5 separate regions of the Homo sapiens genome follow, and all the other regions are linked to region 4. The links come from fine-mapping of genetic effects on gene expression. A gene starts in region 4. Each other region holds a variant in brackets. All regions are shown on one strand. Distances are between the middles of the regions.

What was found. PIP is the estimated chance that this variant, and not a neighbour inherited with it, causes the effect.
Region 1: its variant is fine-mapped to the expression of CDC42BPG in subcutaneous fat (GTEx, PIP 0.98).
Region 2: its variant is fine-mapped to the expression of CDC42BPG in esophagus mucosa (GTEx, PIP 0.93).
Region 3: its variant is fine-mapped to the expression of CDC42BPG in whole blood (TOPMed, PIP above 0.99).
Region 5: its variant is fine-mapped to the expression of CDC42BPG in whole blood (TOPMed, PIP above 0.99).

The regions. Positions count from the first base shown.
Region 1 is chr11:65,472,380-65,478,531 of GRCh38, reverse strand. It overlaps ENEMAL (enhancer lncRNA neighbor of NEAT1 and MALAT1), which reads left to right and starts at 1,045. Exons shown (of 1, transcript NR_186313.1): 1 at 1,045-1,755. RefSeq lists enhancers at 732-821, 657-1,252, a silencer at 992-1,121 and a cis regulatory region at 6,024-6,152. The variant T/GT (reference allele first, on the strand shown) is at 3,569.
Region 2 is chr11:65,262,753-65,268,904 of GRCh38, reverse strand. It overlaps POLA2 (DNA polymerase alpha 2, accessory subunit), which reads right to left. Exons shown (of 18, transcript NM_002689.4): 2 at 2,199-2,323; 3 at 1,337-1,428; 4 at 176-233. Among named protein-coding and RNA genes, the nearest start is that of POLA2, 3.9 kb to the right of the region's middle. RefSeq lists an enhancer at 6,032-6,152. The variant C/T (reference allele first, on the strand shown) is at 3,225.
Region 3 is chr11:64,692,726-64,698,877 of GRCh38, reverse strand. It overlaps NRXN2 (neurexin 2), which reads left to right. Exons shown (of 23, transcript NM_015080.4): 3 at 1,086-1,103; 4 at 6,002-6,031. Among named protein-coding and RNA genes, the nearest start is that of NRXN2, 27 kb to the left of the region's middle. The variant T/C (reference allele first, on the strand shown) is at 3,124.
Region 4 is chr11:64,840,892-64,847,043 of GRCh38, reverse strand. CDC42BPG (CDC42 binding protein kinase gamma) reads left to right here and starts at 2,391. Exons shown (of 37, transcript NM_017525.3): 1 at 2,391-2,634; 2 at 5,140-5,231; 3 at 5,311-5,394. The coding sequence starts at 2,475. RefSeq lists silencers at 2,212-2,561, 2,572-2,621, 2,652-2,701 and enhancers at 2,916-3,728, 3,753-4,047, 4,541-5,353.
Region 5 is chr11:65,666,747-65,672,898 of GRCh38, reverse strand. RELA-DT (RELA divergent transcript) reads right to left here. Exons shown (of 4, transcript NR_183625.1): 4 at 1,181-1,476. Among named protein-coding and RNA genes, the nearest start is that of RELA-DT, 6.8 kb to the right of the region's middle. The variant G/A (reference allele first, on the strand shown) is at 3,404.

The DNA of each region.
Region 1 (6,152 bases), 630 kb before region 4:
TGACCTATGTGGCTAGTGTGGTCCAAGTTACCCTTAAGCTCCCTCTTTAAGGTCCATAAATGCCCCTAAGGAAAATCCCTAAGTCCTCTAGCTGAGGCGCCCCTCTGCACTCTTCTGTAGTGCTTTTTCTTTTTCTTTTAATTATTTTTATTTTTTTATTAATTATTATTATTATTTTTTTTGAGATGGAGTCTTGCCTCACTCTGTCTCCCAGGCTGGAGTGCAGTGGCCGGATCTCGGCTCACTGCAACCTCTGCCTCCTGGGTTCAAGCGATTCTCCTGCCTCAGCCTCCCAAGTAGCTGGGACTACAGGCAAGTGTCACCACTCCCAGCTAATTTTTGTATTTTTAGTAGAGACAGGGTTTCACCATGTTGGCCAGGCTGGTCTTGAACTACTGTCCCCAAGTGATCCACCCGCCTCGGTCTCCCAAAGTGCTGGGATTGCAGGCGTGAGCCACCGCGCCCTGCCTTGGTAGTGTTCTATATAATGAAACTTTCCTTTTCAAACCTACACTGCCCTCCGTAGTGCAAACCGAACAGCCAGTGCTGAGGCGCAGAGACGCCTCAGGCACCAGGTGGGAGCAGGCAGGAAAGGCACGTGTGCGAAAAGGGAGGAAAAGGGGACGGAGAGCTCACTGGCCAGGGGAACGGAGTCGGTGACAGAAAGGGCTGCTGGCCGTGTGGGGTGTGTGGGCTGTGTGGGGTGGGGTGTGTGGTGTGTGTGTTTTGCGTATTTTTAATAGAGACCGGGTCTGGCCAGGTTGCCCAGGCTGGTCTCAAACTCCCCTTCCCGTCCTGGAACCCCTTGGACTCCCCAGTTCGTAAGGCCAGTGCAGAGATCCTGGGGAGGGAGAAGCAGGGCCAGCTACCACCGCCCTTCCGCTCCAGACGGTCCCGCAGATTGGCCAATCCCGGCCGCCCAGCCAGATGCTTCCCGGTGACTCAGCGCCCGGCGTGTCACGTGACGGCGGGTGGGCACCCGCGCAGGGGCCGCTGGGAGTCCCGCGCTGCCTCCCCTGCCCCCGCGCCGGGGCCACGTCCCCCAGCCAGGTCCCTTCTTCCTGCCGTGTCCCCAGGGCAGGACCGCATCGGAGAGAGTCCGGGAGGAGGCCGCGCTCCTGGGGGCTGGAGACCCGGCGGCGGTGGCCACTGCGCGCTGTTCCAGCCTTGAGGGAGGGAACCGCGGGCCTGGGTCCGCCTTGGGATTTGGGAACCGGTTTCCTGCCGGGTTGACCTAACTTGAGCCTTCAGTAGTTCCGGGGCGGGTGTTGTGGTCTCCGTTCCAAAGTCGGGAAAACGGTATCTGGGCTGGCGAAGGGCCGCGAGGGTGGTGGGAGGACCCTGTGGCTGCGCCGAACAGACCGCGGGAACCCACACTGAGTGGGGTGGGACGGGCTGCCACCCCGGCTTTGTCAGCCCCATGCCCCCTTCTCGCCCTTCATCCTCTGCTCCCTCACTTAGGCTCCAATTCCTCCTGATTTTGTTCTGTTTTTCCCTTCGGGCATCCAAGGCAGCCACCTGCCCAGGCCTGGGCCTGTTCAAACACTGTCTCCGCTGTACTCCCTAGCTCCTTGAACCCCTACATTGTCTGCATTCAGGAAGTTTTGTGGCTTTTTAGGATTTTTTTTAAACACAGGGTCTGGCTCTGTTGCCCAGGCCGGAGTGCAGTAGTGTGATCATAGCTCACTGTAACCTCGAACTCCTGGGCTCCAGCCATAGGAAGCTTTTAATAAAACAACCTTTGCTCCGACCGCACCCTGGCCTTGCTGGATAAAGCCAGGCCTCTCTCTTGGGTTACAGCAGGCCCTTCAGGACTTGGCTGCCCCTCTCTGTTCCAGCTTCTCCTGATGTTCCTCGCTCACCCCAGAACTCCTTTCCCAAAACTGAGGGAACTCCAGCTTGTCCTTAAGATCTCAGCTCTGCCCAGTGGTCTCCTTAGACTGGGTGTGAGGGTCCCGCTGTGGACTCCCTGAGCTTAGGGAGAGGGCAGATTTGTTCCTGCTCTCTCAGGCCCAGTTTAGGCCTCAAGACAAGAGCCCAGGTTGTCTCCTCAGAGCTCAGAATGCTGCCACCACGTGTGGTCAGACCACTATTGGCCCAGCTCTAACCAGTAACTGGAGCAAGGCTTAGGATTGCTGAGAAAGATTGGGGGCAGCAGAGAAGCTTCTAAGAAAAGGTTAAATAACACACCTCTTTTTCTTGTTGTTGTTTTTGTTTTTTTGAGACGGAGTCTTGCTCTGTCGCCCAGGCTGGAGTGCAGAGGCGCGATCTCGGCTCACTGCAACCTCCGCCTCCTGGGTTCAAGCGATTCTCCTGCCGCAGCCTCCCAAGTAGCTGGGAGTACAGGCATGTGCCACCACGCCCAGCTAATTTTTGTATTTTTAGTAGAGATGGGATTTCACCATGTTGGCCAGGATCTCGATCTCCTGACCTCGTGATCCACCTGCCTTGGCCTCCCAAAGTGCTGGGATTACAGGCATGAGCCACCGCGCCCTGCGGATACTCCTCCATTAAGAAAAACATATTGGCCGGGCGCGTTGGCTCACGCCTGTAATCCCAGCACTTTGGGAGGCTGTGGCGGGTGGATCACGAGCTCAGGAGATCGAGACCATCCTGGCTAACATGGTGAAACCCGTCTCTACTAAAAATACAAAAAAAATAGCCGGGCGTGGGCCGGGCGCGGTGGCTCATGTCTGTAATCCCAGCACTTTGGGAGGCCGAGGCGGATGGATCACAAGGTAAGGAGATCGAGACCATCCTGGCTAACAGTGAAAGCCCGTCTCTACTAAAAATACAAAAAAATTAGCTGGGCATGGTGGCTGGCGCCTGTAGTCCCAGCTATTCGGGAGGCTGAGGCAGGAGAATGGTGTGAACCCGGGAGGCGGAGCTTGCAGTGAGCTGAGATCACGCCACTGCACTCCAGCCTGGGCAACAGAGCGAGACTCCATCTCAAAAAAAAAAAAAAAATTTGAAAAGGCAAAATGAAGACCAGTCCGAAAAGGTGGCCATAGGATGACCTTTGGGATTCTCTAGGCATGGCACCTCTCTGACTTATTCACCATTGATGAGGCTGGGCTCTGATGAGTAGATTGATAAGATATAGCTAGCTTCTGTCAGGTAGAAAAGATGACCCAAGATAATGGGCTTATTACCCTGCAGCGCAGCAGGTACTTTTGGATGTAACTCAGCAATCTTATTCCAGCATTGCTTTTTCAGTGCCTCTGAGTATTTCAGTCTCTCCAGTTCCCTTTGAACTAGTGTTTCCACCATTATAGTTTCTTAACACCTGAAGTAACCTTTGGTACATACATTAAAGACAGTCATGTTTATAACTTTGGAAATTATATCCTGTGACACATTTGGAGACTGTCTCACCAAGATGTCCAATTGGTTTTGGCTGCCAGAGCCAATTACACTTTGTTGCACGTGACATTTGCCTCATAGGTTCACCTGCCTCAGGCTTCCTGGCTCCATCCTGTGACTTATTATTTTTTTAATAATACCCAAGTACAGCTGGGTGTGGTTGCTCACACCTGCAATCCTAGCACTTTGGGAGGCTGAGGGGGGG[T/GT]GGATCACCTGAGGTCAGGAGTTCAAGACCAGCCCGGCCAACACAGTGAAACCCTGTCTCCACTAAAAATACAAAAATTAGCCAGGTGTGGTGGTGGGCGCCTGTAATTCCAGCTACTTGGGAGGCTGAGGAAGGAGAATCGCTTGAACCCAGGAGGCAGAGATCTTGCAGTGAGCCGAGATCACACCACTGCACTCTCGCCTGAGTGACAGAGGCAGACTCCGTCTCAAAAACAAACAAACAAATAATACCCAAGTACATGGGTATTTTCTTTTAAAATTCAAACAGTAAAGTTAAAGTTGGTTGGACAATCACCTCCCATCCTAGGCCTGTTGTAAAGTTGACTACTGGCCAGTCACGGTGGCTCACACCTGTAATCCCAGCACTTTGGGAGGCCGAGGTGGGCAGATCACTTGAGGTCAGGAGTTTGAGACTAGCCTGGCCAACATGGCAAAACCCTGTCTCTACTAAAAATACAATAATTAGCCAGGTGTGGTGGCATGCACCTGTGGTCCCAGCTAATGGGGAGGCTGAGGTGGGAGGATTGCTTGAGCTCGGGAGGCAGAGGTTGCACTGAGCAGAGATGCCCCATTCCACTCCACCCCAGGTGACAGAACCAGACCCTGTCTCACAAAAACAAAAAACAAAACAAAAAAAATGGTAGTATATGGGACCACTGTCACATATGTGGTCCATCATTGATGGACATGTCATTATTCAGTACATGACTATGTATGTATATATACACATACAAACATTTATAATGTGCTTGTGAATGTGTATATATATTCATATCACACACATGTAGATATATCCTAATATATGTATAAATAGTATATACATAATTGAAATACATCATTTTAATGGTTCAAGAACAGCCTAGGCAGCATAGGAAGACTCCATCTTGCCAAGACATTTAAAAAAAATTGGCCGGGCGCGGTGGCTCACACCTGTAATCCCAGCACTTTGGGAGGCCGAGGCAGGCAGATTGCCTGAGGTCAGAAGTTCAAGACCAGCCTGGCCAACATGGTGAAACCCCATCTCTACTAAAAATACAAAAATTAGCCAGGCGTGGTGGCAGGCGCCTGTAATCCCAGCTACTCGGGAAGCTGAGGCAGGAGAATCACTTGAACCTGGGAGACGGAGGTTGCAATGAGTGGAGATCACGCCATTGCACTCCAGCCTGGGCGACAGAGTGAGACTCCATCTCAAAAAATAAAAATAAAAATTAGCTGGGCATGGTGACGTGGGCCTGTAGTCCTAGCTACTCAGGAGCATGAGGCAGGAGGATCCCTTGAACACAGGAGTTTCAGGTTACAGTGAGCTACGATTATGCCACTACCCCACCCCCCCAGCCTGGGCAACAGAATGAAACTTTCTTTAAAAATTAAAAATTAAAAAACTAAAAAGGGAGAACTATTTTGGGACATGAGTCCTACCTACCTCACTCTTTTTATTGTTTTGGTGTTTATTTTCTTTAAAAAAGAAAAAAACAACAACAAAAACAGGGTCTCGCTGTCTCTCCCAGGCTGGAATGCAGTGACACCATCCTGGCTCACTGAAGCCTCAACCTCCTGAGCTCAAGCAATCCTTCTGCCTCAGCCTCCCAAGTAACTGAGACCACAGGCACGAACCACCATGCCTGGCTAATTTTTAAATATTTTGTGTAGAGATGGGGTCTTGCTATGTGACTCAGGGGGACCTCACTCTTTTTGTTTTTTGGTTTTTTGGTTTTTGTTTTTTGAAACAGTCTTGCTTTGTCACCATGCTGGAGTGCAGTGATGCAATCTCGGCTCACTGCAACCTCCGCCTCCTGGGTTCAAGCAATTCCCCTGCCTCAGCCTCCTAAGTAGCTGGGACTACAGGTGTGCACCACCACACCCGGCTAATTTTTTGTATTTTAGAAGAGATGGGATTTCACCATGTTGGCCAGGATGGTCTCGAACTGCTGACCTTGTGATCCACCCGCCTCGGCCTCCCCAAGTGCTGGGATTACAGGTGTGAGCCACTGTGCCCAGCCACTTTGTAACTGCTAACATGGCAACACAAACTATAAAATACCTATGAATAAATTAAAGGAATGTGCAAGACTTTGTGTAGAAATTTATAATTTTTTTTTTTTTTGAGACAGAGTTTCGCTCTTGTTGCCTAAGCTGGAGTGCAATGGCATGATCTCAACTCACTCCAACCTCCGCCTCCCAGATTCAGGCGATTCTCCTGCTTCAGCCTCCCGAGTAGCTGGGATTACAGGCGCCTGCTACCATGCCCGGCTAATTTTTTGTATTTTTAGTAGAGATGGAGTTTCACTATGTTGGCCAGGTTGGTCTCAAACTCCTGACCTCAGGTGATCCGCCTGCCTCGGCCTCCCAAAGTGCTGGGATTACAGGCGTGAGCCACCGTGCCCAGCCAATTTGTTGTTTTTAAATAACCTTGTTTACAACTTTGTAATATTGATAAATTTTATAAACAATGAGATGTATGAGGCAAAAAGTGAAAGCACACACACACACACACACACACACACACACACACACACACGGACTCTGCCTGAAGCAACAGCACTGTGTATTTTTCCAGAGCTTTT
Region 2 (6,152 bases), 420 kb before region 4:
AGGACTGCCATTATGTAAAACATTTAGACATATGATCAGAAAGGAAGATGTATAAGTGGAAATATAGTAGGAAATGCATGAGAGTGGTTGATTTTTTCCCTCAGATCTTCAAATGTTGTGAAACTATTTTAAAATGTTACTTGTAAAATGCAATGTCCAAACACTGTTTACTTACCTTTGAAGGTGTGGTGTAAGAGTTCAAGAGGATTTCCTCTTCTTCTTCCACTTCAATTCTAAGAACACTGGTTAAGAAAAACAATAATGGCTGGGCACGGTAGCTCATGCCTGTAATCCCAGCACTTTGGGAGGCCGAGATGGGCGGATCACGAGATCAGGAGACAGAGACCATCCTGGCTAACACAGTGAAACCCCGTCTCTACTAAAAAAAATACAAAAAATTAGCCGGGCGCCTGTAGTCCCAGCTACTCGGGAGGCTGAGGCAGGAGAATGGCATGAACCCAGGAGACGGAGCTTGCAGTGAGCTGAGATCACACCACTGCACTCCAGCATGGGCGACACAGCGAGACTCCATCTCAAAAAAAAAAAATAATAATAATAATAATAAACTTTCATATAAGGCAAGGGCTGATTGCTAGAAGAAATCTCAATATTAGGCAATTTTTACTATTATTATTATTGAGATGGGGTTTCCTCGTCGTCCAGGATGGAGTGCAGTGGCCTGATCTCAGATTACTGCAACTTCCACATCCCAGGTTCAAGAGATTTTCTCACCTCAGCCTACCAACTAGCTGGATCTACAGGCGTACATCACCACACCCAGCTTATTATTATTATTTTTTAATTTGTACTTTGGCCGGGCACGGTGACTCACGCCTGTAATCCCAGGACTTTGGGAGGCCTAGGCAGGCGGATCACCTGAGGTCAGGAGTTCGAGACCAGCTGGCCAACATGGTGAAACCCTGTCTCTACCAAAAAAAATACAAAATTATCCAGGTGTGGTGGTGTGCACCTGTAATCCCAGCTACTCAGGAGGCTGAGGCAGGAGAATCACTTGAGATTGGGAGGCAGAGGTTGCAGTGAGCTGAGATTGCACCATTGCACTTCAGCCTGGGCAAAAAGAGCGAAACTCCAACTCAAAAAAAAAAAAAAATTTGTACTTTTGATAGAGACAGGGTTTCACCATGTTGCCCAGGTTGGTCACAAATTCCTGGGCTCAAGTGATCTGCTTGCCTCGGCCTCCAAAAGTGCTGGGATTACAGGCCTGAGCCACCGTGCCCGGCCTTATTATTTGTTTTTAAATTACACATGCGACTACAGACAAATTATAAAATACAACATGTAGCTTGGTGCAAAGACCTTCAGCAGAAAAGGATACAGCTCTTGAATGGAAACAATGTCTCTAGCTCCTGCATGGCCACTGTCCTTGCAGGTACTATGCCTGGCTTTCGATAATCTTTTGCTCAGAAACTGAAAAAGAAAAGATAGTGAATACAGTACTTCATAGTCAAGTAATAGCAGAGGTGTTTTCAAAAGCCTTGAGATAATAAAAGGTATTCAAAATATAATCAAAGATCTAACATTCCTCAAAGAATTAAGATACACACAGACTAAAAACAAAGACATCCCATGACTGTCTATAACATATAACAATCCTAATAATACCAATTATTTGGTGAAGACTTATCACCTGCTGGGCATAGTTTTAAGTGCTTTATGTCCATTCTCATTTCTTTTTTTTTTGAGATGGAGTCTCGCTCTGTCCCAGGCTGGAGTGCAGTGGCGCAATCTCAGCTCACTGCAACCTCCACCTCCTCGGTTCAAGCGATTCTCCTTCCTCAGCTTTCCGAGTACCTGGGATTACAGGCGCCTGCCACCATGCCCAACTAATTTTTGTATTTTTAGTAGAGACAGGGTTTCACCACGTTGGCCAGGCTGGTCTTGAACTCCTGACCTTGTGATCTGCCTGCCTCGGCCTCCCAAAGTTCTGGGATTATGGGCATGAGCCACGGCGCCCAGCCCCATTTAATTCTTATAACAATCATAAAAAATACAGATTATTAGACCCAATGTCAGAAAAGGAAACTGAGGCTCAGGGACATAGTTTGTCCAAGCTCACACTGGGACTGGAATCCAGGCCTGACTCGAAAGCCCACACTCCTCTCAATATATCACAATGCCTCCCCTGTAGAGCAGAAATGGAGAATCACATTATTAGTTTGCTTTCATTTTGTTCTTACCTCATGCTCAAAAGAGTTCAGGATCTCTGAGGTAAGGCCAACTTTATGTGTGCTGGTGCAGAAGGCTATAAGCTCGCCTACCATTCCCTCCTCATTCTGTCCATACTGAACACAAAGCTCTACCACTGTAGAAAGGAAAATTGGACAAGTAAAAACTTAGTTCATTTCTCGAAGTTTCACCTAGAAAAGCAAAAATAATCCTGGTTTACTCCATCAATGTTTATTCAGAATCTATTAGTGCCAGGCACTGTTTTGGGCAATGAGAAAACAGAAGCATCCTTGTCCTTACAAAGCTCACCACTGAGGGGAGACAAAAGAGGATAAGGGCAGAATCAGGGGGACCAATTAAAGAATCATGGAAAAGCCCAGGTGAGAGATGATGGTGGCTTGGATCAAGGTGGTGGCAGTGGAGATGGCGAGAAGTGGCTGGACTCTGGATAGGACTTTACATGCTGGAAGTGAAGCCAGTGGGATCTGCTAACTGAATGTAAGGTATGAGAAAAAGAAAGTCAAGGATGATGCTGATATTTTTAGCCTGTGCAACAGGAAGAGTGGCGTCCCTATTAACTGAGATGGGGAAAAGAGCCAGAGGAACTACTCTGAGGAGAGAGAGGAGATACCAGGAGCTTAGTTTTAGACATGCAGAGTTTGAGGTGCCATTTAGACATCCAACTGGAGACAGCAGGCTGAACAAACCAGCCTGTAGTTCAGGCAAGGGTTGTGGGCGGAGGTATAAATTTGGGAACCATCAGTAAATACATGGGATATAAAGCTATGAGACCCCAGGTGAGATCGCCAAGGGAGTGAGCGTATCTAGAAGGGAGAAAAGATCCCAGGCTTGAGTCTTGGGGCGCCTTAGGGCCTCTGAGGATGAATCGGCAAAGCCTGAGAAGCGGTGACACAAGCAAAGCTGAAGAAAAACTAGGAGTAAGCCGGATGCAGTGGCTCACGCCTGTAATCCAGTATTTTGTGAGGTTGAGGTGGGCAGACTGTTTGAACCCAGAAGTTTGAGACCAGCTTGGGCAA[C/T]AGGGTGAAACCGTTTCTATAAAAAATACAACAATTAGGTGGGCTTGGTGGCATGTGCCTGTAGTTACAGCTACTTGGGGGCTGAGGTGGAAGGATTGCTTGAGCCAAGGAGGTTGAGGCTGCAGTGAGCTGTGATTTGCCCATTATACTCCAGCCTGGGCAACAGAGCAAGACCCTGTCTCAGAAAAAAAAGAAAGAAAAACTAGTAGTGTCTAAGAAGCTAAAAGAAAAATGTGTTTAAAAAAAGAAAAAATGACAAACAGTGTCAAGTGCCGGTGCTAATTCAATTCAAGATGAGGACTGAAAATTCATCACTGGTTTTAGCATGGTGAAGGTCACTGGTGACCTTGAGTAGAGCAGCTTTGGTGAAGTGGTGGCAACAAAAGAACTTACTGAAATGGATTTAAGGAGGAAATATTTAAAGATGGCAAGGCCCCCCCCCTTTTTTTTTTGGAGACAGAGTTGCACTCTGTTGCCAGGCTGGAATGCAGTGGCACGATCTCGGCTCATTGCAACCTCCACCTCCCCGATTCAAGCGATTCTCCTGTCTCAGCCTCCCAAGTAGCTGGGACTACAGGCATGCGCCACCATGCCCAGCTAATTTTTGTATTTTAAGTAGAGACCGGGTTTCACCACGTTGGCCAGGATGGTCTCCATCTCTTGACCTTGTGATCCGCCCTCCTCCGCCTCCCAAAGTGCTCGGATTACAGGCGTGAGCCACCGCACCCGGCCGACCCTTTTGAGGTCTGCTGTAATTGGGAAGGAGAGAACTGGAGTGGGAAGTAGGGTCAACAGAGTATTTTAAAGGCAAGATTGGAAGCACATTTCTATACTAGTAGGAAAAAAATCTTGTAGCAAGGAAAATAGAAAATATGTAAGACAGGAGAATTACCAGTGATGTCCTTAATTGCTTCAGAAGGAATGGGGTTTAGGACTCAAGTGGAGGACTTGGATTTTGCTAGGAATACGGAAAGCTTATTCATTATAATAGGAAAGAAGGCTAGGTATATGCCACAGATATGGGTCAGTGAGACATAATGGTGGTAGCTGATCGAAGTTTTCTAATGCTTCTACATTTTTCAGCAAATAATAGAAATTTGTCAGCTGAGAGTGAGGGTGGGACAGAAGGATGTTACAGGAGAAGGTGGAAAACAATCATCTGGAAGACTCAGAGTAAAGAGACCAGGGGCCTGGCGCAGTGTAATCCCAGCACTTTGGGAGGCCAGGGTGGGCGGATCACCTGAGGTCAGGAGTTGAAGACCAGCCTGGCCAACATGGTGAAACCTTGTCTCTACTGAAAATACAAAAAGTAGAACAGGTGTGGTGGCTCACACCTATAATCCCAGCACTTTGGGAGGCCGAGGTGGGAGGATCACTGGAGGTCAGGGGTTCGAGATCAGCCTGCCCAACATGGCGAAACCCCATCTCTACTAAAAATACAAAAAATTAGCCGGGCGTGGTGGCGGGAGCCTGTAATCCCAGCTACTCGGGAGGCTGAGGCAGGAGAACCGCTTGAACTCGGGAGGCAGAGGTTGCAGTGAGCCAAGATTGCACCATTGCACTCCAGCCTGGGCAATGAGAAACTCCATCTCAAAAAACAAAACAAACAACAACAAAAAAAACAGGGAAATACGGTTGACTGTCAGGAAACATTAAGGTGCCACTGAAGTTACTGATGATCCAAAGTCCACAATTCCAAAGCCATTGCCATGAGATGAAAGCAACTGGCATCTTGGCCTGAAGCCTTTACAAATCTGGTTCACATAACTAATTTCTCTCATGCTGATTTCATGCTTACCACATACATTTCTGACTATGATCAGGTTTTCCACTTAAGTCTTTTTTTTTTTTTTGAGACAGAGTCTCGCTCCTGTTGCCCAGGCTAGAGTGCAATGGTGTGATCTCGGCTCACCACAACCTCTGCCTCTCATGTTCAAGCGATTCTTCCGCCTCAGCCTCCTGAGTAGCTGGGATTACAGGCATGCGCCACCACGCCCGACTAATTTTGTATTTTTAGTAGAGACAGGGTTTCTCCATGTTGGTCAGGCTGGTCTCAAATTCTCGACTTCAGATTATCCACCTGCCTTGGCCTCCCAAAATGCTGGGATTACAGGCGTGAGCCACCACACCTGGCTAGTCTTCTTTTAAAAAGAGAAGGACCGAGCCTGCTGGCTTATGCCTGTAATCCCAGCACTTTGGAAGGCCAAGGTGGGTGGATCACTTGAGGTCAGGAGTTCGAGAGCAGTCTGGCCTACATGGTGAAACCCCTTCTCTACTAAAAGTACAAAAAAAAATTAGTCGGGCCTGGTGGCGGGCGCCTGTAATCCCAGCTACTTGGGAGGCTGAGGCAGGAGAATCGCTTGAACCTGGGAGGCGGAGGCTGAAGTGAGCCGAGATTGCACCACTGCACTCCAGCCTGGGTGATAAAACAAGACTGTCAAAAAAAAAAAAAAAAAAAAAGAGAGAGAGAGAAGGCACTGGGCATGAAGACTTGAAGTATTCTGGTTTCTGAAAGGAATTTCTCACCATAAATTAACGTTTCGTTATCTTTTTGTATATAAGAAGTTCAAAGTGTTGAGTGGTTAAGGCAGGTGCACATTCATACCGATTCTAGAACTTCCACATCTCCCAGGCTTTGCTTCAAATGACTCCTTACACTGCTCTACAGCTTGACCAACACGATGGACCCGTATGATGCAGCACGGGACTCCAAGGCAGGACACCTGGCTTCACAGACAGCTCAGGCAATTAGCTTTCCTTGTCTGTTTCTCCATCTGTAAAGCTCCCTAAAGCTCCTTCCACAGCTCAAATTCAATTTTAGGAACCTACCTCAAGGGATTCATATTTGCACAGACCACCAACAGCTATGATAAAATAACTGATGGATCAGCAGAGGTTTAAGGTGTAGGCTGGAAAGGGAGGAGCCAA
Region 3 (6,152 bases), 150 kb after region 4:
GGGCACATGGCAAATGTTTGGAGCTGGGGGCACCTCCATCCTCTTACAAAGAAGATCAGAGCCCAACCTGCTTGAGGAGTTGTAGCTTAGTTGAAGGAATTGTCTCCATCTTCTCGTTGTTCCATCTTCTCCCTTGACCCATTTGGTGAGCTCCAAGGCCAGATCCAGGCAGGGCCCTAATAGGTGAGGTCTGCCTATCCAAAGGATGTGGCATGGTCTAGGTCTGGGCCCAGTGTGGCCCACTGAATTTGGACTCTCTTCCCCCACTGGCATGGCCATCCAGCCTGGGGGCCCTTGGCCTCATCCAGATGTTAAGAAGACATTTGTCCTAGAATCAGAATCAGAGTCAGAAGAGGCCTCAGAAACTATCCAGTCCACCCCTCTCATTTTGCAGAAGAGGCAGTAGGGACTCAGAGAGGTTAAGTGAATAGGATGAAAGTCACACAGTGCTGTGTGGCAGAATCATGTTTGTTCTCTCTGTGTCTTGATGTCTTTTCACCCCTGGGAGGGTCAGGGGCCGTAGGTGGTTGGGTCCTGTGTGCAGGGGCTTTATATGTGAATTGTGTGAGACAGTGTGTGTCACTGGATTGCTAAGTGCCTATGTGTGTCAGTGTGTCACTGAGCATGAGTGTGTCTCTAGTGAACCCTGTGAGACAATTAGTGGTGTGAGTGTGTCCCCATCTGTCTGTGAGATGCAATGGAATGCAGGGTAGGAGCCTCTCTGGGGAAGTTGAGAAGCCTGACTGCCACTCCTGGCCCTGCCTCAGATTCTCTGTGTGACCTTGAGTGGTTACTTCCCTGTCCTGGGCCTCGGTTTCCTGAAATGTTACTTGAGGGTTGGGTGTGATGGGTACTGGCTGACTGTGTGTGAGGTTCTGACTCAGGGAGCAGCTCTGTGTCTGCCTCATCCCCAACATAGCTGTTTCTTGAGATTTGGGCCTTCCACATTGGGTGACTCATGTCAGGGCCTGGGTGGGCTTGGACTCCTCTCTCCCCTTGGAGCCCCTGTCCGTGGTACCTTTGCTAACAGCCCTCCTTTTTCTTCTCTCTCTGCCTCCGTCTTCTCCGAACCTCGCTGGCTGCAGAGGAGCACCCCATGGAAGGTGAGTGAAGCCTCTCTGTCACTGGGGTAGTGGATCTGTTGCCATGGGGATCCTACATGAGGGACTGTCGTTGGCTACCCAAGGACTCCCTTTCCTGCCATGTTTAGGGCCTCTCCGGAGAAGGATGTCTGGGGTCCTCCCTTGGCTGCCTTGCCCCACTCTCTTGCGTCCCCTCTTCATGAGTTTCGGGGGAGCTGCTGACTGGCCTTTCTTCTTCCTTTCCCTCTCCACGCTGGAGAGGGAAAGGGAAACTTAGGGAAGAGATGAGCGGTGGGGGTGGAGGGATGGGGCTGACAGGATTCCGAAGTGCCCAGAAGTGAGTGGGTAGACAACGTTTAGCCCAGCCTAAGTTAGGAAGCTTAGAAAGGCAATTTTCCAGATGCTGGGGCAGGCTGGGGTGGGCTGTTGCCCCAGAAACCTGTGCTTGGGGAAAATCTGCCCTGGAATCTGGTGCCACTGTGCAGGGCTCAGGGGACTGGAGGGTGGTGGAGTGCACTGGCAGAGTAGGGGGTTGGAGGTGTATAGTGGGAGCAGCTTCTCTGCCCCACTGTGACCAGCACTTGCCACTTGCGGCAGGCCCCTAGCTGCTGCCCCACAGGTTGCTAGGTAGGGGTGGGCTGCTTCTTCCTTCATCCAGGTCGGAGGGCAAGGGTGGGGTGTGTGCCTCTCTCTCAGGTCTCTCTGTATGTTCTTTCTTTATCTCCTGTTTTGTTGGCCTCTTCTCCCTCTCCAGTTTCTGTCTTTACCTCCTTTTCTCCAAGACTCTGTCCCTGGACCATGTGTCTCTCCTTCCCCAGGCTCTCTCTGGGTTTCTGTCATTCTCTGAATCTTTCTCTTGCAATTTGGCTTTCCCTGTTTCTTCTCCTCCTCTGGGATGGACTGAGAGCAGGAAGAAGGTAGTCCTGGCTTGAAGGCTGTGTTGAAGATGAGCTCACATAGCTACCATGAAGAAGGCAGCAGAGCAGGCATGAGGTGGCATCCCAGTCCCTTCTCCTGGGAAGGTGGAGTGGGAGGGCAAGGGCGTCCCTGGGGAGGAGGAGAGGAAAGTGCCAGGGATGCAGTAGTCCTGGGAAAGAAAGGCAGCAAGAGGCTCTTGGCCTGAGTGTGGGGCTGGAACCCATTTTTCCTCGTGATGTCCATGGTCTGACTTGTCTCTCTTGGATGTCTCTTTTCCCTGGGGGTCCTCAGGTCCCCAGGGCCCAGCAGGCAGGTGTGTGTGTGTGTGTGTGTGTGTGTGTGTGTGTGTATGTATGTATGTGTGGGTATGTATGTCTGCATACACATACATTTATACAACTCTGCTGGTCTGTGTGTCTGTGTGCACGCCTGAGGATATATGCTGTGTACACGTAACATGGTTTTGTGTCTGAGTGCATGGGTGTGCTGTGCGCCTCCATCGATGCATATGTGGTGTGGCCCACATTTCTGTATGCCTATGTAGAGCATCAGCATCTTTGTGTGTCTGCATCTGTGTTTGCATCTCCGTGTGTCAGTGTTTACCTCTGCGTGTGTGTCACAGAGAGAGTCTGCGTGTCTGGGTGGACGCAGCCTTCTGAGGGCTGGAGATAAGATTTAGTGTTGATGTGACTTTTACTTGCTCTTGATGTCATGTCTCCTCCGGAACAAAGGGTGAGATGGAGGGAGGAAGAGAGAAAGGGAAAAAAGGGTGGAGGAGAGAAAAAAGGAGGGAGCAGAGAGATGGAGGAAGGAGAGGGGGTAAGTGAAGGGTGGGAAGAGAAAGACTCAAGCCTCAAGCTGTAGGGGGTGGGGCAGGAACGGGGAACAGCTTGGCCAAAAGAAGAAAGGCAGGGGGGCACTTGGGAAGAAGGAGTCTGGTGGGAGTAGGGAAGAGGAAAGGGGCTGATAGACAGGAACAAGAAGGGAAGCTGGGCTTTGGGGACCCATGGGGAAGGAGGCCTGTGGACGCCACCTCGCCATTTCTTTGGGTGGCATGGTGGTCTGCTGGTTTAGATGTGGCACTGTGGATGCCTGCATGTCAGTGGCTGTGCAGGGCTGTGTA[T/C]TGGAGGCTGTGTGTGTGTGTGTGCGCGTGTGTGTATACACACCTAGGAGTCTGACACATCTCTGTGTCACTCTGAGACATGTCTGTGTGCCTGCTTGTGTGTCTCTTAATTTGGTCACCTATCACCATCTTTATTTCGATGGTGGTTCTCTCTGGGGTTTCAGTAGGAGAGTTAGGGGATGAGACTGAAGATGGGGAGGTGGGTTTAGCAGGTGGTGGTTCCACGTGGCTGGGCTGGCGGCCTCCTCTGTGGCACTGTGCTCTGGACCCTGCAGCCCTCCTTATATCTCTAAGGAGTCCTCTGTACCTTCGCCTTCTTCCCACTTGACACTGTGCCTGAGGCCTAGCTTTCTCCAGGAACCCCAAGATCCTGCTCTGCACCCCTGCCGAACACCTCCTTTTTCCTCCCAGCCTCTAGTGGCAGGGCAAAGAGACCCAGAAGTAGCCAGATAAAGTGCCCTAGGAAGGGACCCATGGCAATGCCATCCATCATTGCCAGTCTCTTTTCCAGCAGTGGGAGGAGGGGCTGATGCCACAGGTGGATGTGGGGAAGTGAATACCCCAGTGGGGCTGGGGGCCAGGAGGAGGGAGCAGAGATTTCAGATTAGTGGGGAGACAGACTTTAGGGAGAAAACCCTGGGGCCAGCTGGGACTGAGCCAGGGGTAGACAGGAAGGGAACCAGCCTCCCCTTCACCAAGATGGCTGGTGCTGTCACGCCTGAGGGAGCTGAGCAGCTGGTTGCCGTGGTGACAGAGGGAGACTGCCGAATGCTAACGAGGCTGGCGAGGAGCTGGGCAGTGGAAGGGTCTGGGAGAGGGAGATGTGGCTTCCTCCAGCAGCAGTCAGGCCTGTGGGAGACAGAGGGTGGGTTCACAGGGCACCTGGCTCCTGGGCTGGGGGTGGGCAGAGACCTGGATTCTCAAGGGTGGGATCCTGAGAGCAAGGCTGCTTCTGACCGGGAGAGTCGGATGTGGGTTGAGGGCTCTGGGTCTGGGTCCTGGGTTTAGGGGGTTTGGAAGGAGATGCTGGTAGTTTTTGGGGAAAGGGTTGGTGGCAGAGTAGGAGGGTATTCAGAGTAAGGAATGAGGAGACTCGGTTCAAATGCTTGGGTCCTTACCTGTGTGATGGATAAAAACCTACATCCTCCCAAGAGCTGTTCAGTCCTGAGGCTGCCCTCAGCGGCTGTGGCCTCCTCCTCCAAGTGGCCTCAGACTCAGAGGTGGGGAGAAACCAGTGCCACCCTAGAGACATGGGGCAAAGAGGGCAATGTGAACCATCTGCCACGGGGTCCAGGCCTTTGGCCCCTGGCCATGTCCTTCCTGTCCTCCTCACTGCCTTTCCTCTTAGAATCCAGGCATCCTGGCCCCCAGCTTCGTCTCAGAAATACTTGTAACTCTTTAACCTTGCTACTTCCATCCTGGCCCCAGCTTTCTATCCCTAGGGTTCACATCTCATTGCCACAGCAGTGGGGCTGGTTTCCAAGGGTGACAGTGGCACTGCAGGGCTGTTCCCCTTCCTACCCTCTTGGCCAGACACCACAGGGGAGTGAGTGGGGCTGGGGGGGCTCTGAGGTTTGGTGGAGCTGGCTGGCCATCTCAGGAAGCCCTGGGGTCTCAGCCCAGCTGTGGGGCCTGGTGCTGCCAGCCTCTCTAGGAGAGAGCTTTCCTTGGCTGGTGCCTGTTGGGGACAAGGGTACTGATCCAGTGGGCCAGATTCCTTCCCACTAAGGCTGGGGAGGGGTACTTTGGGTTAGGGCTGACAAGGCTGTCTCAAGGGGCCAGTGTAATCCTGGATGGAAATCCTAGCTGGTCTTCCTATCAGTCCATTTTCTATTTTCAAAATCCAGCTTTTGGGTCATTTGAGAGAGGTCCTGGTCAGAGAAAGGGGGTCTGTAATTTATGAATGATGTACTTGGACCTTTCAGAGAGCTGGGCTTCCTCCCATAGGGCTCGGCTGTCCTCTTTGGACCTTGCTGTCTGAGAGCTCTGACCCCAGTCTCTCAGTGTCTCTGTAGATTCTACCTTCTCCTACCTGCTTCCTCTCTAATTTTGTCCTCTTGAACCCCAGTTTCCTCTTAGAACCCAGGTGTGCAGGGTCCCTACTACCCCTACAGAGGTTATTGGGAAGGGTAGCTGGGAGGATTAGAACCCAACAGGTGTCCTTCCAAACCCCGCTTTAGTGGGGGATGCTTTTAGGCCCAGGTTCTTTATATCCCCCCATCTTTCCCCCTTTTCTACCAGCATCCTAGGGGTAACTGGGATTAGGGGTGTTGGGGGGTTGGAGGCCCCCTTGCCCGCTTAATCCCATGCTAACAGGACACTCTCTCTCTCTCCAGGTGGCTTTGATTTTTGTGTCGTGTTTTATTTTCTCCTCCATCTGAATCGTTTTTCTCGTTGACTGTTTTTTTTTCTCTCCGCCTCCCGGAAGAAAAAAAAAAAGAAAAAAAGAAAAAGGAAAAAGCAACCCTCCTAGCCTAATGCTTCTCCTCCTTTTCCTTTTTTTTTTTCCGGCAAGAAGAAAAAAAGAAACCAAAATCTCCTCTCCCCGCTGCAGTGCCCCCCGCCCCCTCCTTCCTCCAGTTCTGCCTGTACCCCTCTCACCCTCTCTGACGCCCCTAATCTCTCTTTCTCTCTTCCCCTGTTGTGCCCTCCACCCGCTGTTTCGGCATCGGGCCCCTCTCCTCAGCTCCTGGGCTGGGGCTCCCCCCGATGTCTGTCACAAGTTAAAAAAGGTTTTTAAATTGTGGCAGCAAAAGCTTTTTTCTCCCTTCTCTCTGGCTGATTTTGATGACTCGTGTTTTCTTTGTTTCTTTCCCCTTTTCTTTCTTTTTTCTTCTTCTTTTTTTCTTTCTTTCTTTCTCTCCTTCCCCTTTCCAAGGTCCGGCTCACCTGACGTTAAACAGCGAAGGTATGGTTTGAAGTTTTGGTTTGGTTTGGATTGGATTGCCCCCAACCTGCGCCTGGATTTTCTGTTCTTCTCCCTGTCCTTCCCCTGTCCCCTTCCCCTCCTCCACCTGTCCTGACACCTT
Region 4 (6,152 bases):
TGGGCCCTGCGTAGCTACAGGGCGGGCCTCTGGGGAGATCACATGGGAGGCAGGGCGAGTCTGAGACCAGCCCCGGGCAATGTAGAGAGACCCCAGCTCTAAAAAAAAAATTAAAAATTAACCAGGCGTGGTGGTGCAGGCTTGCGGTCCCAGCTACTCAGGAGGCTGAGGTGGGAGGATCACTTGAGCCCAGTATGTTGAGGCTGCAGTGAGCTGAGATTGCATCACTGCACTCCAGCCTGGGTGACAGAGCAAGACCCTGTCTCAAAAAAAGGCTGGGTATGGTGGCTCATGCCTGTAATCCCAGCACTTTGGGAGGCCGAGGTGGGCGGATCACCTGAGGTCAGACCAGCTTGGCCAACGTGGCAATATAGTGCAACCCTGTCTCTTTAAAATAAATAAATAAATAAACAAATAATCACATGAAAAACCCTTCGTGGGGAGAAACACCCTGTTTGCTTCAAACATTCATGGAACACCTCCTCCCTCAACCTGATCCTGCCCCCATCTCAGCGAGGTCCCAGTACGAGAGGAGAGGCAAACCCCTAAACAGGTCTTTTAATGAAATAATGTGTTGGCCAGTGGCTACAGCCTGTAATCCCAGCGCTTTGGGAGGCTGAGGCAGGCAGATCACTTGAGTCCAGGAGTTTGAGATCAGCCTAGGCAACATGGCGAAACCCCATCTCTATAAAAAATACAAACATGGCTGGGCCCAGTGACTCACGCATGTAATCCCAGCACTTTGGGAGGCCGAGGCAGAAGGATCACCTGAAGTCAGGAGTTTGAGATCAGCCTGGCCAACATGGCAAAACCCTATCTCTACTAAAAATACAAAAATTAGCTGGGTGTGGTGGCACATGCCTATAATCCCAGCTACTTGGGAGGCTGAGGCAGGAGACTCTCTTGAACCTGGGAGGCAGAGGTTGCAGTGAGCCGAGATCGTGCCACTGCACTCTGGCCTGGGTGACAGCGTGAGACACCATCTCAAAAAACAAAACATCAGCCTGGCCTAGTGGTGTGAGCCTGTAGTCTCAGCTATTCGGGAGGCTGAGGTGGGAGGATCACTTGAACCCAGGAGGTTGAGGCTGTGGTGAGCTACGATTGCACCACTGCACTCCAGCCTAGGGGACAGAGTGAGACCCTGTCTCAAAAAAGAGAAAGAAGTGTTGTCTAGGCCGGGTGTAGTTGCCCATGTCTGTAATCCCAGAACTCCGGGAGGCCAAGGTGGGAGGATTACCTGAGCCCAGGAGTTCGAGACCAGCCTGGTCAACATAACAATAACCCTTGACTCCAAAAAGTAAAATAAAAAATCAGCTGGGTGTGGTGGCATCTGCCTGTAATCCCAGCTACTCAAGAGGCTGAGGCAGGAGCCTAAGAGGTCAAGGCTGCAGTGAGTTATGATTGCATCACTGCACTCCAGCATGGGTGACAGAGAGACCCTGTCTCAAAAAAAAAAAAAAAAAAGTGTTGTCTGAAGCCACCAATATGTCCCACCCTTTGATCTCTCCTCATGGTGCCTGGTCCATCCCAGCTGGACAGAAATCAGAAATACCACTGGACAGAGCCAGCCCCTCCCCTCCCCAACCTCCTCCAGCCTATCTCAGACCTCTCCTTGCCCTTCACGTTCCAGGTCAGACCTCAGGCCCTGCTCCTACTGAAGCTTAAAACGCCTGTGGTGTTGGTACCAGCCCAGCTCCACCTCCACCCCAGGGTCTAACTTAAGAGCCACCTTGTCCTCAGCCCCTCAATTCGCCTTCCTCCTTCCCAAGCCTCAGTGTGTCCATCTGCCAAATGGGCGTGACCATCCCTACCCCAACTTCCTGTCTCCCACATCAACTCTAATGATACAATCAAAGTAAGATTCAGAAACTTTTTTTTGGGCGGGGGCGGGGGGGCGATGGGTGCCAAGCGCGGGCAAACCATGGAGAGAGCGAACTACAATTCCCATCCGGCTCCGGGGCCGCGGGCGTCCCTAGCCCCTCTCTCTTAGCCAAGGGCAAGGCGGCTGCGACCCAGGGGGCGAGAGAAGTTGCAGTGCTCCGCGCCTCCTGGGTCAGGGCCCAGGGAGGGCCCAGGTAAGTCTGGGTCTGGGGCCGCGCGGGGATCTGGGGAGTCTTTCCGACCCCGCAGAACCCCACCGCGCCCCGCGCAGAAGTCAGTTGTTCTCCCCGGCCCGCCCCCGCACTTCCTGGCCGGGAGTTGGGCCCGCCCCCGCGCGCCTCCGCCCCCACCTTCACCTCTAGCCGCGGCTCCCATTGGCCGGCGCGCACCTGCCCGTCCGTCGGGGGGCGGGGCGCGGCGCCCAGGTGAGGGCGCGCTGGCGGCGGCGGAGGAAGGTGACAGCGGGGAGGGCGGGAGAGGGGCGGGGGAGGACGCGCGGACAGAGCCTCAGACGGTTGGGCGGACGGACGGCCCGACAGGCGGGCATGCGGGCGGCCAGACTGTAGCCGAGCAGCGAGGCTCCGGCCGCAGCCATGGAGCGGCGGCTGCGCGCGCTGGAGCAGCTGGCGCGGGGCGAGGCCGGCGGCTGCCCGGGGCTCGACGGCCTCCTAGATCTGCTGCTGGCGCTGCACCACGAGCTCAGCAGCGGCCCCCTACGGCGGGAGCGCAGCGTGGCGCAGTTCCTGAGCTGGGGTGAGTGGCGGGGCGGCACGGAGCGGGGGCGGGCCTAGGGATATCGCGCCGAGACCCCCGCACCCGCAGACTTTCCCGCAGGGACCCGCACCCCCACGGGCTTCCCTCGCAGACTCCCTGCAGTGGCCCTGACGCGTACCACCGGACCCCCGCGGCCCGCACACTCGCCTGCACACCTCACCCTCACTCCAATTCTCACACACGCTCTCTCCCTCTCACAGACCCCGACACATGCACACACATACCAACTTGTGCTCAGGTATCGACCGCAGACGCATGTACCCAGTGCACCGCCTAGAGTCCCTTACAGATTTCCTTGCTTACAGGCCACACCTGACGCAGGACACACACAGACCCTCATGCATGTCACCCACTGATACACGGGCTCTGTTTCTCCTTCCTCTCGGATGCATTGAGACACACAACTCATGGAGAGACCCAGGGAGCGCTGCAGACCACCCCGACCGCATTGGCACTGCAAAACACACAGATCTGTAGGTATCGCACACTTGCAGACCTTCCCCCCACCAACACACACACCCCCAGCTCCCTGGGTACAAGACCACTGCAGCCTGGACTCAGGAACCGATCTCCAACCCTTGGCCTGTGCAGGCTGCTGGCCAAGCTCCTTGGGGGCTGTGGCGCCGGGGCCGGGGAGGGGGGCCTAGCTGGAGATGGGTCTGTACCTTTCCTGGTAGACTCATCTGAGTCATTGGGAGTGGCTGGCCCGGGGTGACCCTGAACCCACTGTGGGCACTGGCGCCAGCTGGAGGGTTCCCTGGTCACACCCTGCCGGGCCATGGGGAAAAGGCACGGGGGCCTGGCCAGGGCGGGGTGAGGCAGGTGTTTGCCCAGTGGGCAACTAGCGTTCCTGGCACTCCTGAGCTCTGGGAAGGCACAAGGCCTGGGGTAGAGGGGGAGGCTGCCACCTAGATGTGCCAGGGAGTTGTCCCCTAGCCCCAACCCTTCCATCCAGGGCGAGGCAGTCAGAGGCCCCTGCCTCTGTGCCTGTCTCCCTGGTATGCCTCCGTGCTATGCCTGTCTGCCTGTGTTGTTGTCACCCCCCCCATGACACCCACACACGTGTGTGTGTTTGCACACACATGTGTGCTCCTCCCTGACTGCCTCCAGCACCTCTGCCTGGGACCCCGGCATGGGGGCCCTCTGTTGACAATCTCCCAAGGTAACTCAAAGGGCTGTGACTCATTCCTCTCCTGCTTGTCTCTACTTGTCCCTGCTCCTGCCCGGAGCCCCCATGCCCTGTGGGAGGCCAGAGGATTAGGCAGCCTGTCCAGGGGCCTGGATCCTCCTGCCTGTGGGCCTGGGCTTCGGCCCTCTTCTGGCGGGTGGGTCCCTATGGTGCTGGCTTCAACTCCCACGGGGAGGCCCGGGGCTGCTCCTCCCCAGCTCCACACACAGACCTGGGAAAGAGACAATGAATTTCTGTAATGAGGTTTCCACCCCGCCCCCGCTGCGGGCTTCTGCCTGATAAACCTGTGGAACAGCTCTCTGTCCCACCCACAGACCCGCCCAGCTGGCAGGGAGTTTACCTCCTGGCAGGGGGAAACTGAGGCAGGGCGCCAGACCACAGCTGCCCCCCATCCTGACTGATCACTCCTGCCTCCCTAAGACCCAATTCCTTCCCAAAACCTGGGGCTAATCCAGGCCTGGAAAGTGCCTGGGAGTGGCTGGAGTTGCCCTTCCTGGAGGTATCTGGGATGTGAGGAAAGAGGACGTTCTTGACCAGACAAAAGCTTCGTCCAGACAGGGAGGCAGGGCTGGGAGTGAGAGAGCCGGTCAGGCCTGGAGGCATCCTGAGCACTCACGCCTTCAGGGGCTAGTGCTAGCACCAGGGAAAGGCATCTTTGTCCTGTTTGTGAGTCTCAGCACCTTGGCAGACTGGCATCCATGCCTCCAGCCTGAGGGGCCCCACGTGGGAAGCATAGAGCCTGTCCTCCCTGCCCTAGGGGCTGCAGGCCTCACCCCCAACCAGGCACCTCTATGCCTACAGGGTCCCGGGACCCAGGCCCACAGCTCCTGAATGGGAGAGAAGCCTCTCTGGGGATAAGGAATGTCACCCGTCCAGTTTCCTAAGACAGGCCCTGGCCTGAACCTGTGAGGGGGCCAAGAACTGTGAGGTGGGGGTAGGAATGGTGTCCCCATGGTCCCCAGGGTGACCTGGCCAAGCAGAGTCAGGCCGCAGACTGGGCAGGACTACAAGTCCCATCAGCCCCTGGGATGGAGGCTGCCTAGAGTCTGGGGCCAGGGGTCCAGGGAGGTCCAGGGACCAGGCGGTCAGCTGAGCCCGGCCTCTGACCTTCCGCACTTCCTGATCATGGCCAAAGGAGCACCAGTTCCTGCCACAACCCCTTGGCCCGAGGCTGTCCCTGGGGAGGTCATCCCTGCCTGGGCTCACAGGAGCGGCAGCTCCTGGCTTGCCCAAGGTGAGAGGGGGAATGGAGCCCTCCCTCCCTGCACTCTGAGTCCCGCCCTGTGTCCCCTCAGCCAGCCCCTTCGTATCAAAGGTGAAAGAACTGCGTCTGCAGAGAGATGACTTTGAGATCTTGAAGGTGATCGGCCGAGGAGCCTTTGGGGAGGTGAGCAAAGGGCCTGGGGTAGGTGGGGGGAGGTGTTCACACCGGGCTGGGCTCACCCCGGTCCTCCCTGTGGCCTTAGGTCACCGTGGTGAGGCAGAGGGACACTGGGCAGATTTTTGCCATGAAAATGCTGCACAAGTGGGAGATGCTGAAGAGGGCTGAGGTCAGTGTGGAGTCTGGGGGGCCCTTGGGCACCCTACAAATGGGTGTGGGGGAGGTGTATGCTGCCAGGGCCTATGGCGCGGGGGGGGCGGGCAAGGCTGCAGACCAGGCAAAGGGTGCCACCCTCAGCAGCCACTGATTTGTTATCTTTCTCACAATAAACCCTTTATTTAATTTTTTAAATTTTTTTTTTTTTTTTGAGACGGAATCTTGCTCTGTCAACTAGGCTGGAGTTCAACGGTGCTATCTTGGCTCACTGCAACCTCCGCCTCCCAGTTCAAGTAATTCTCCTGCCTCAGCCTCCCGAGTAGCTGGGATTACAGGCACCTGCCACCACACCCAGCTAATTTTTGTATTTTTAGTAGAGATGAGGTTTTGCTATGTTGGACAGGCTGGTCTCGAACTCCTGACCTCAGATGATCCTTCTGCCTTGGCCTCCCGAAGTGCTGGGATTACAGGCGTGAACCACCGTGCCCAGCCTACAATAAACTTTTTTTTTTAAGATAGAGTCTCACTCTGTCACCCAGGCTGGAGTGCGGTGGCGTGATCTCGGCTCACTGCAACCTCCACCTCCTGGGTGCAAGGGATTCTCATGCCTCAGCCTCCCAAGTAGCTGGGATTACAGGCGTGTGCCACGACACCCAGCTAAGTTTCTTGTATTTTTAGTAGAGATGGAGTTTCACCACATTGGCCAGGCTGGTCTCCAACTCTTGATCTCAAGTGATCTGCCTGCCTTGGCCTCCCAAAGTGCTGGGATTA
Region 5 (6,152 bases), 830 kb before region 4:
AAGAGATTCAAAACAAAGTTATCTGACTATCATCCCTAGTGGGCTATAACCTAAGGACAAGAACTACAAAAATATATTTTCAGAAATCTTATTATGTTGAGTCATAAGTTTTATGAAAAATAAAAAAAGAAAAAAGAAATCATTATGGAGGTAGAGTTGGTATCATTATTCTGAAACTGTTTTGTATACAGTGTGAGATAAAGCAAATGAGTAATGGGTTGGTGTCACTGAGAACTGAGGCTGGGTGCAGTAGCTCATATCTGTAATCCCAGCACTTTGGGAGGCTGAGGTGGGAGGACTGGTTGAGCCCAGAGCCAAGGAGTTCAAGATCAGCCTGGGCAACAGAGCAAGACCCCATTTCTAAAATTAAATAAAAAAACAGAGAAAGAATTGAGATTTTTTAAATTGTGGTTAAATATATATAACATAAAATCTACCATGTTACCCATTTATAAGTGTGCCACTGAATGGCACTTAGTACATTCACACTGTGTGCTACCATCAATCACCACCATCCTGCTCCAGAATCTTTTCATCATCCCCAACATAAACTCTGCATTTGTTAAGCATTAACTCACCATTTCCCCTTCTCTCCAGCTTCTTGTAATGGGTATTCTACTTCCTTTCTCTATGAATTTGACTATTGTAGGTATCTCACATAAGTAGAATCATATAACATTTGTCCTTTTGTGTCTGGATTCTTTGACTCAGCATGTTGCCTTCAAGGCTCCTCAATACAGCATGTATCAGAATTCCCTTCCTTAAGGCTGAATAATATTCCCTTGCATGTATATACCACATTTTGGGGTTTTGTTTTGTTTTGTTTTTGAGATGGAGTCTCACTCTGTCACCCAAGCTGGAGTGCAGTGGTGTGATCTCAGCTCACTACAACCTCTGTCTCCTGGGTTCGCGCAATCCTCCTGCCTCAGCCCTCCAAGTAGCTGGGATTACAGGCGTGCGCCACCACACCCAGCTAATTTTGTATTTTTTTTTTAGTAGAGACAGGGTTTCGTGGGGTTTCACCATGTTGGCCAGGCTGGTCTTGAACTCCTGGCCTCAAGTGATCCACCTGCCTCGGCCTCCCAAAGTGCTGGGATTACAGGCATGAGCCACCGTGCCCGGCCGCATTTTTTTAATCCATTTGCATTAATCCGGGATCTCCAGAACAGAACCAAACAGATACAGATATAAGAGGCGATTTATTATGGGAATTGGATGACAAAGTTATGGAGGCTGAAAAGTCCCACAATCTGCCATCTGCAAGCTGGAAGACCTGGAAAGCCAATGGTGTAATTCATTCCAAGTCCAAAGACCTGAGGACCAGGTGAGCCAATGGTGTAATGTCTCGGAGTCTGAAGGCCTCCAGGAGCTCTGATGTCTGAGAAGTTGGATGTCCCAGCTCAAGAAAGGAGAGAATTCACCTTTTCTTCACCTTTTTGTTCTATTTGCGCCCTCAGTGGATTCGATGATGGCCACCTATGTTGGATAGGGTGGATCCTTTTACTCAGTCTGATTCAAATACTAACCTCTTCCAGAAACACTCTCACAGACATACCCAGAAATAATTTTCTACCAGCTATCCGGGTATTCCCTGGGCTGGTCAAGTTGACACATGAAATTAACTATCACACTGGTCATGCGTCAATGGACATTTGGGTTGTTTCCGCCTTTTGGCTATTGTGAATAATGCCGCTATGAACACTGGTGTACAGATATCAATTTGAGTTCCTGCTTTCAGTAGTTTTGAGTACTATGAAATTTCTGGATCATGTGTTAATTCTGGTTTAATTCTTTTGAGGAACCGCCATACTGTTTTCCAGAGCGACTGCACCATTTTACATTCCCACCAGCAATTCACAAGTGTGCCAATTTCTCCACGTGTTCTCCACATCTCCATATTTCTCAGCAAACAGCTGTTACCTTATTTTTCTGATAACAGCCATCCTAATGGGTGTGAAGTGGTATCTCTTTGTGTGTTTTTTTTTGTTGTTTTTTTGTTTTGTTTTGTTTTGAGATGGAGTCTCGTTCTGTTGCCCAGGCTGGAGTGCAGTGGCGCGATCTCGGCTCACTGCAAGCTCCGCCTCCCGGGTTCACACCATTCTCCTGCCTCAGCCTCCCGAGTAGCTGGGACTACAGGTGCCCGCCACCATGACCGGCTAATTTTTTGTATTTCTAGTAGAGATGGGGTTTCACCGTGTTAGCCAGGATGGTTTCGATCTCCTGATCTCGTGATCCGCCCGCCTCGGCCTCCCAAAGTGCTGGGATTACTACAGGCGTGAGCCACGGCGCCCGGCCTATTATTAGTTCTTTATATGTTCTAGGTATTAATCCTTATCAGATATGTAATTTGAAATATTTCCTACCATTCTGTGGGTTGATTTTTTACTTCAGTATATTGTATTTGATGTACAAAAGTTTTTAATTTTTATAAGCCTAATTTATTTTTTTCTTTTGTGGTCTGTGCTTTTATGTTGTATCCAAGAAATCACTGCCAAATTCAATGTCATGAATATTATACAACATAAATGATAACATATAAACAATAAAAACGTAAATAATAACATATAAGCAATCAAAAACATGGGGCACTATGTTTTTTTCTGAGTTTATAGTTTTAGGTCCTACATTTAGGTATTTGGTCCCTTTTTAGCTCTTTATTTTATTTATTTTTTTTTTTGAGACAGAGTCTCGCTTTGTCGCCCAGGCTGGAGTACAGTGGCGCGATCTCGGCTCACTGCAAGCTCCACCTCCCAGGTTCACGCCATTCTCCTGCCTCAGCCTCCTGACTAGCTGGGACTACAGGCACCTGCCACCGTGCCCGGCTAATTTTTTTTTGTATTTTTAGTAGAGACAGGGTTTCACCGTTTTAGCCAGGATGGTCTCGATCTCCTGACCTCGTGATCCGCCCGCCTCAGCCTCCCAAAGTGCTGGGATTACAGGCGTGAGCCACCGCGCCCGGCCCCAGTTCTTTATTTTTTTGAGACAGCGTCACACTCTGTCGCTTAGGCTGGAGTGCAGTGGCATGGCTCACTGCTGTGAACTCGAACTCCTGGGCTCAAGCAATCCGTCTCAACCTCCTGAGTAGCTGGGACTACAGGCATGCACCACCATGCCCAGCTAATTTTTTTCTTTTTTTTTTTTTTCTTTTGTAGAGATAGGATCTCACTATGTTGACCAGGCTGGTTTCAAACTCCTGGGCTCAAGTGATCTTCCCGCCTTGGCTTCCCAAAGTGCGGGAATTACTGATGTGAGTCACCAGGTCCAGCCATTTGAACCATTTTGAGTTAATTTTTGTATATAGTGTTAGGTAAGGGTCAACTTCATTCTTTTGCATGTGGATACCCAATTTTCCCAAAACCATTTGTTGAAAAGATTGTCCTTTCCCCCAGTGAATGGTCTTGGC[G/A]CCCTTGTTGAAAATCATTCAGCCGTATATGGAAAGGTTTTATTTTTATGGGCTCCCTATTCTGTACAATTGGTCATATGTCTGTCTTTATTTTTTTTGGAGACAGAGTTTCACTCTTGTTGCTCAGGCTGGAGTGTAATGGCTCAATCTCGGCTCACTGCAATCTCCACCTCCCGGGTTCAAGCGATTCTCCTGCCTCAGCCTCCCAAGTAGCTGTAATTTCAGGCATGGGCCACCATGCCCGGCTAATTTTGTATTTTTAGTAGAGACGGGGTTTCTCCATGTTAGTTAGGCTGGTCTTGAACTCCTGCCTCAGCCTCCCAAAGTGCTGGGATTACAGACGTGAGCCACCACGCCCGGCCTATATGTCTGTCTTTATGCTAGAATCACACTGTTTTGATTACTGTAGCTTTGTAGTAAGTTTTGAAATCAGGAAGTATGAGTCCTCCACCTTTGTTTCTTTTTTTTAAGATTGTTTTGGTTATTTGGGTCCCTTGAGACTCCATATGGACTTAATTTAAGAGTGGACTTTTCTATTCCCTCAAAAGAAAATCAAGATTTTTGACATGGGAGAAACATGTAAAGTGACTAAGGTTAAGTTAAAACCCTGTAATTCTAGCTGGGCGCGGTGGCTCACACCCGTAATCCCTGCACTTTGGGAGGCTGAGGCACGTGGATCACGAGGTCAGGAGTGTAAAACCAGCCTGGCCAAGATGGTGAAACCCCGTCTCTACTAAAAATATAAAAATTAGCCAGGCATTGTGGCAGGTGCCTGTAATTCCAGCTACTCAGGAGGCTGAGGCAGAGAACTGCTTGAACCCACAAGGCAGAGGTTACAGTGAGCCTGGGCAACAGAGCAAGACTCCATCTCAAAAAAAAATAATAATAATAAATAAATAAAATTTAAAAACCCTATAATTCTAAATTTGAATATGAAACATTAGTATGAACTCCTGATGCATTTCGTATTTAAAAAAAATTACAGCCAGGTGCGGTAGCTCACGCCTGTAATTCCAGCACTTTGGGAGGCCAAGGCAGGCAGATGACAAGGTCAGGACAGGAGATCGAGACCATCCTGGCCAACATGGTGAAACCCCGTCTCTACTAAAATACAAAAAAATTAGCAGGGTGTGGTGGCGCGTGCCTGTAGTCCCAGCTACTCAGCAGGCTGAGGCAGGGGAATTGCTTGAACCTGGGAGGCAGAGGTTGCAGTGAGCCGAGATCGCGCCACTGCACTCCAGCCTGGCGAATGAGCAAGACTCCATCTCAAAAAAAAAAATTACCAGCTAGGCTGGGCACAATGGCTCATGCCTGTAATTCCAACACTTTGGGAAGCTGAGGCAAGAGGAGTGCTAGAGCCCAGGAGTACAAGATGAGCCTGGGCAACATAGTGAGACCTCTTCTCTACTAAAAAATAAAAAATTAGCTGAGCATGGTGGTGTGTGCCTGTAGTCCCAGCTACTGGGGGACCTGAGGAGGGAGAATCACTTGAGCCTAGGAGTTCGAGCCTGCAATGGGCTATGATCACACCACCACTGCAATCCAGCCTGGATGACAGAGCAAGACTCCCATTTTTTAAAAAATTACTGGCTGGGCATGGTGGCTCACGCCTGTAATTCCAACACTTTGGGAGGCCGAGGCGGGCAGGTCACTTGAGGTCAGGAGTTGGAGACCAGCCTGACCAACATGGAGAAACCCTGTCTTTACTAACAATACAAAATTAGCCGGGCGTGGTAGCGCATGCCTGTAATCCCAGCAACTCGGGAGGCTGAGGCAGGAGAATCACTTGAACCCGGGAGGCGGAGGTTGCAGTGAGCCAAGATCATGCCATTGCACTCCAGCCTGGGCAACAAGAGTGAAACTCTGTCTCAAAAAAAAAAAAAAAAAAAAAAAGTACTAACTATTCACCGAAAACATCTACAATGACTGACTCAGTAGCAATAAGTATCCGAAGTACTCAAGCTGTAGTCTTTAAATATCATTTCCTACTAAGAGAAATCAGGACTCCTTGGAAAGCTGTCTGATTCCAGATCTGGGGCAGAAAATTTACTAGATGAGTCTAGAAATATCTTTTCAGGCCAGGCGCTGTGGCTCATGCCTGTAATCCCAGCACTGTGGGAGGCCAAGGCAGGTGGATCACCTGAGGTCAGGAGTTCGAGACCAACCTGACCAATATGGAAACCCCATCTCTACTAAAAATACAAAAATTAGCTGGGCGTGGTGGCACACTCCCATAATCCCAGCTACTTGGGAGGCTGAGGCAGGAGAATTGCTTGCACCCGGGAGGCAGAGGTTGCAGTGAGCCGAGATTGCACCATTGCACTCCAGCCTGGGCAGTAAGAGCGAAACTCCATCTCAAAAAAAAAAAAGGAAAAAGAAAAGAAATATCTTTTCATACCAAACAGCAAAGAAGCTATCACAGGCTACTGTAATTGCTTTTTTAAAATTATTTTTTTAATAGACATAGGGATCTTGCCATGTTGACCAGGCTGGTCTTAAACTCCTGGCCTCAATCAGTCTTCCCCATTCAGCCTTCCAAAGTGCTGGGATTACAGGTATGAGCCACCAAGACTCATATATTGGAATTGTGTCAAAAGGACTGAAGAACAACCAACTTGAAGAAGTTCTCCCTAACCAAAGACGAATAATTTGAATTTCAATAACTATACTTGATTAAAACACAGCTAATATATTTAAATCCATGCATTCATTAAGATTTTAAAAAACTCAGCCGGGTTTGGTAGTTCAT